2 separate regions of the Homo sapiens genome follow, and region 1 is linked to region 2. Evidence: fine-mapped expression QTL. A gene starts in region 2. The other region holds a variant in brackets. All regions are shown on one strand. Distances are from middle to middle. Region 1 overlaps TRABD2A (TraB domain containing 2A). Region 2 holds the start of TRABD2A (TraB domain containing 2A).

The links. PIP is the estimated chance that this variant, and not a neighbour inherited with it, causes the effect.
Region 1: its variant is the best candidate, but not a certain one, in a credible set for the expression of TRABD2A in whole blood (TOPMed, PIP 0.52).

Annotation. Positions count from the first base shown.
Region 1 is chr2:84,853,799-84,856,702 of GRCh38, forward strand. All of the region lies in intron 2 of TRABD2A (TraB domain containing 2A), which reads right to left. Among named protein-coding and RNA genes, the nearest start is that of TRABD2A, 26 kb to the right of the region's middle. The variant C/T (reference allele first, on the strand shown) is at 1,280.
Region 2 is chr2:84,879,683-84,882,586 of GRCh38, forward strand. TRABD2A (TraB domain containing 2A) reads right to left here and starts at 1,402. Exons shown (of 7, transcript NM_001277053.2): 1 at 1,250-1,402. The coding sequence starts at 1,357. RefSeq lists enhancers at 644-1,146, 1,147-1,647 and a silencer at 1,377-1,506.

The DNA of each region.
Region 1 (2,904 bases), 26 kb before region 2:
CACACAAGGTCAGGATTTCGAGACCAGCCTGGCCAATATGGTGAAACTCCATCTGTACTAAAAATACAAAAATTAGCTAGGCATGGTGGCGCACACCTGTGGTCCCAGCTTCTTGGGAGGCTGAGGCAGAAGAATCACTTGAACCTGGGAGGCAGAGGTTGCAGTGAGCAGAGATCGCCCCACTGCACTCCTGCCTGGGCACAGAGCGAGACTCCATCTCAAAAAATATTTATTTATTTATATTTCATATATTATATATAAATATATATTATTTATATTTGAAAAAATAAAAATAATACAATTTTTAAAAACAAAAATACAGTATAACAACTATTTACATTGCATTTACATTGTATTATGTATTGTAAGTAACGCAGAGATGACAAAGTATTTGGGAGGGTGTGCGTAGGTTATATCCAAATGCAACTTGCCATTTTATAGCAGGAACTTGAGCATCTTTGAATTTTGGTATCCAAGTGGGTCTTGGAACCAATCCCCCATGGATACTGAGGGACAACTGTACAGGCTAGATACGAGTAAGCCCAACCACTTACAGTGGATGGAGCAAAAGCAACAGCAAACTTACCAAAACATTATGCACTGGGCACTTTACAAAGGTTCTCTATTTATTCTTTACTACAAACTGACAATGTTTGTTTCATCATACCCCTTTTAGAAATAAGAAAACAGACTCAGAAAGGTTCAATATCTCACCCAAGGTCACAATACTAGGAAATGGGGGAGCCAGGATTCAAACCCAGATCCACGGTCTCCAAAGTTGATACTCTCCACTGAGAAACTGCACAGAATAACAGGGCAATAGGCAGGAAGACTGGCCTTGGTGCCTCCCAGGCCTCTAAAGCCAACCTCTCCTCAGGCAAGACCTGCCTGACTGCCCAGACCCATGCAACTCTAAGGCAAGGAGAGGCAATACACCTACTTCTCCTGAATGCCCTGTCCTGGTTATGACAGCACCACCAGGTAAGATGCACAGACAGCCTCAAATTCACCCTTCCTGTCCTGTTAACTAATGCCCCTTGCCCCCCCAGAGATCATGGTGTCAGGTCCACCTCTGGGGAAAAGCTCCACAAAACCATCCTTGGATTACAGACCTTTCTCTCCTACTGGGTGTACCAAAGGTGTCAAATCACTGTGCCCTTCCTCTACCAACCCCTACCCAAACCACAGCCTCTGAAGGGACAGCCCTATGTAGGACATGATTCCACGTGCCCCCTCCCTCCCCAAGCCATGCCAGTTACACCTGAGTGGACACCTGACT[C/T]GATGATATGGCACTGGCTGAATCATCAGCTTTACATTCAAAGAGTACATCTACCCCACAGAATGGACTTTAAAATCGTCCACAAGCAGAAAATGCTCATCTTTATAGGCCAAATACCAATTGCCTCATTTCAAATCTCTTTTAATTTGCATTCGTGTAGATTTCAAGAAGGGCAAGATACAGGAGACCACAAGAAAAGAACTATTGGAAATATTACAACTAAGATAAAACACCCCTGATATGGCATTTCCTACGGTGCAAAAACTAAAGGGACTTAATTTTCCCCTTGGAAAACACAGTAAGTAAGATACACAGATTGCTACTTTCACATTAGTGCTTGCCGAACATTATACTCCCTTTTTTTAAAAAAAAATGGTTATCAGTCTAACCATAATCATGGCTTATCATCAGCTGAATCCCCTTCTCCCTCCCTCCAATGACACATATTCACTCCACCTGCACTGCCTTCTGAACGTTGTGCTCACTGGAGAATACTTTACAGGCTTATCACCAGACAGTTTACTTCAGGGTTCAAATTCTACCCTTCCTTGCCCCCTAGCCCCCACGTCCCCCTTTCCACTCTCCCCTTGCCTCCCCACAGCCCTTCTTCTCTCTCCCTTTCTTTCTGGGCTGTGGAAAGAATCGATTAAGCTCCTGTCCACATTTGCAGCAGACCTTTTTCTCTTTCCTGAGACTTGTTCAGCTGTGGGGAGACCCAAGTCCCAGTTGGGGCATTGTTGCGTTAGCCCAGGGGTTGAGGGGGTGGGTGAGGGGGTTCGAGTCCGGCAGATGTCTTTTTTGTCAAAAACAAAGGCCCCCCAGCGAGTCTCTCCTCTTTCCAGCACTTTCATTCCCCTCAGATCAAAGACCTGCTCTGCATATGAAAGGCACCGCCCATTACGCGGCTCACAGTGGCCCGCACCACCCCACTAGCCTCCCCGCACTCAAACAAAGGGCCTCGCATCTGTTCAAGCGCAGGCCTCACCTTCTGGAGTGTGGAGTTGTTGTGTCTTCTTTTTATCTTAGTTCACTTTTGAGAGCCATTCAGTCCCTTGAAGTATAGTTAAGAAGAGTAGGGGAAGGGTCTCCCTTGCCCTCAGACCATTCACCCAGATAATTTTTTAAGACATCTTGAGGGTGTCTGGTCCTTGCCTCCCCACCTCACCTAGGTCTCCGTGCAGTGGGGAGGTCCTTCTCAGGCTCATTTTCTACCTTCGCAGCCACTCTTCCAAATACCTCCTCCCTTACCTGAAAAGGGACTATTCCCTTGGAAGAGTCTAGACTGGCCCCTCAAACCAAGGAGGTGATGAAAGTCCTGCTCCTTCTTGTCATGTGAATGGATGCTGCCAGACTCGGGAGCTAAAGCTTCCACACACTTCTTTGGATGTCTAGGTCTGCTTTTTGGCAGAGGCAGCAGGGAAGCGCTTCTCAAAACTTGAACCTGAGTTCTCAACAAAAGGACTCAAGCATAAGGACGAGATAAACTGATCTTCAGTGACATTTTAATCTGAAGAAGTGCTATGTTGTCAATGATGACGGTTCCTGAACACCAGGAGGGCACACAGCCTGGAAGAATGCACATGGCCAGCTGGACCTTCCCTCTCTTTTCTTCCCGCTGCCTCCTG
Region 2 (2,904 bases):
AGCATGAAGCGGCCACACCGCAACAGAGTTTGAAACCATGCCTGGTGCAGACTCCCCTCTCCAGCTGCCGCGCCTCCTGCCTTGGTAGAGGGCCGTCCGCAGCCCCGCGACGCCTTACAGAGGCGAACACCGTGCGTCTTCCCAGCCCGGAGCTCCAGGATCGGCTCTATTTGGCCGTCCTCTGCTTTGCTGCAGTTGGGATGAGGAATAAAATTGCGAATGGCCAGGGGTGGAGGCAGACCGGGGAGCTGCGCAGGTGTCATCAAAGGTGGGCCTCTAAATTCCAGCCCCCACTCCCTCAACCCACCCCCAACCCCCCCCACCCCCGCGTCGCGGGCGCACCAGAAGGATAAGCCTGGCATGGCCCTCTCCAGAGCCAGGGACGCACAGATATCAAACCCACCGGAACAAATGCGCGAAATTCAACCTATGCCGCACTCAGAAGAGAGGGACTCGAGAACCACAGAAAATTCTGAGTGTAGGAAAACTGATCAGAGAAGGAAATATTCATCTCGAAAGAGGTCCAGCCTCGGAGACGCAAGACCTGTCCGCTATAGAGCTGTGTTGACTCGGGCAGGTCACTGAGCCTCCCTTGCCTGGGTTTCCCTCACCCACAAAACGTTGATGCGAACATCTAAAGCGCCCGGCTGGACACGCAAGGCTCGGACAGTGGTCACTCCGCGAACGCACTCTGTGACCTGGAGCACACAGGTCCCCCGCTGAGTGTCAGTTTCCCAGATCGGTAAAAACAAGGGAAATGGCTTCAACTCCCTAAAGTCCCTTCTAACTCAGGCACTGAACATATGAAGGTTAAGCCAAGCAGCTTCAGGGCGCTGTTAATATTTTGATAAGAGCAGGTGAAATTAAACTCTTAAGGAAGAGAGGGAAGAAGAAACTTCAAATAAATGTGCCCAAGTTCCTGGTCCGGTACTCCCTGGCGGATCCGTCCCCCGAAAGCTCGCGAAAATGGCTGGCGAGACCCCAGAGGCTCTCTCGGACGCCCTTGGGCTGGCGGAGGGCAAAGGCCAGGGCACTGAGTCGCTTGGAGCCTGCGGGCTGCGCCCCCGCGGGAAAGGGGAACCCGAGGGCACGGAGAGGAGAGCGAGCAAGGAGCGCCGCGGTGCTAGGTGAAAGCCCAGCCGCGGAAGTCGGCTCGGGGTCCGAAAGCGCTGCTTCGCGGGGTTCGGAGGGAAACCATCCCAAGGAGGTGCAGAGAGGCCGGCTCTCCAGCACCCGACGCGCGCCTTACTTGGGGCTTGAGCTCGCAGTTGGCGGTGCCGGGCGCCCCGCGCCGCGAAGCTGCGCCCGTGGGCAGGAGGCAGAGGGTCTGCAGCAGGAACCAGCTCCAGGGACTCATCCTCCTCAAGGCGGCTCCGAGGCCCGGAACGCGGAGGGAAGGAGTAGGGCAGAGGTGGCCGCCCGCCCTGGCTAGCCGGGGCCGCGGGGCGCCTCCGGGCGGGGCTGGGGTGAGCCCGGCAGCAGCGGCCACGTGGGGCCGGGCCTCGACCTCCCTCCCCCCACCCCACCCCCGCAGGTCAGCCCCGCGCCTAGGCGGCAGCGGAGTCCCGAACCGCGTTTCTCCCGCCCAAACCCTGCCGGGGCCGCCGCCCACCTCGTGTGACCGCAAGAGGGGTAAAGTGAAGTTCCAGCGCTGTCCTAAATTCAACCTAAAATCGCATTGGTTCCTGCGTTTACGTCTGTGCTTATGCTGCCGATTGTGAGGGGAGGGTGCCTCTTGATTGAAAGAGGCAGACAAAATAAACAAATGAAAGGCTATCTATAAAGGAAAGTTCATTTAAACAAAGGAAATCTCACGGAAGTTTTGAATGTAAAAGAGAGAGGGGAATGGTCAGTGTGTGCATCCACTGAAAATCCAGGACCACAAAAGCTGGCACTCCATTAAGAGCCCTCTTAATGGATTTTTAGGAATAATATTAAGGATGTTAACACCGAACTCAGAGGATTGCCGCAAGGATTAAAAGAGGAAATTTATGAGAAACACCTTGATTGGCACACATAGCAAGCCTGCAAACTGCAGTCGCTCCCTTTCGGCTCCAAAACCCCACTGAGGATTTTTCACAGCATTGGTCCATCAGGAAGAAAAAAAAATTATGAAAGCAAGTAGCTGTGCCCCGCCTGCCGCACCTCCTACCCATGCCTGAGCGCACTTTACCACCACCTTTTAAAGTCCAGACGTCTGCGCCATTAACTTCGGAGTGGTGTTCGCAGGAGCATTTGTCGCAGTGGTCTTTAATTGCTTTAAGTCGCTGTCCATTTTGAGAATCTGATAACTGGACGATCTCCCAGGGAAAAAGAAAAGGGGGGGGGCAGATTTGCATACAATGCGGGGAGAGGTTTTCTGAAGCCCATTTCCAACTTTCCCGTAAAGAACCCCTGGCTTTGAAGAGCCAAGTCTTTCGAGATTTAACTCCACCAACATTTAGAGTTCAGATGTTTTTGTAAAATCGCTTTTTTCTAAGTTTGAGTGGGGATTTGCTTTCTGGAATTGACTGTCTCCTGTCTTCAGATGACTGCCCCGTGTCAGCCCGGCGGCAATCGTTAGTCTCCGGGCCAACCCAGGACGATGCTTTTTGGCGTTTTCAGGCACCAGCGCTGCCACCTGCTGGCAAAAACTTTCTCTTTCGGTTGTGAGGGGGAAAAGCAAAAAGCATCAAGAACGTAAGTTGCCCTGAGCTAAGATCGAACCACTGCACTCCAGCCTGGGCCACAAAGTGAGACCCTGTCTCTTATTTAAAATAAAACAAAACAAAACAAAACAAAAAACTCAAAAGGATGTAATTACCTATTATTTCATGTTATCTCTCCCACTCCAAATGAATCAATCCGTGTGGCCACAGAGAAGCCCGCCCAGCTTCTCTCTGAGCTGGGCTTCTCTCTGGCCAC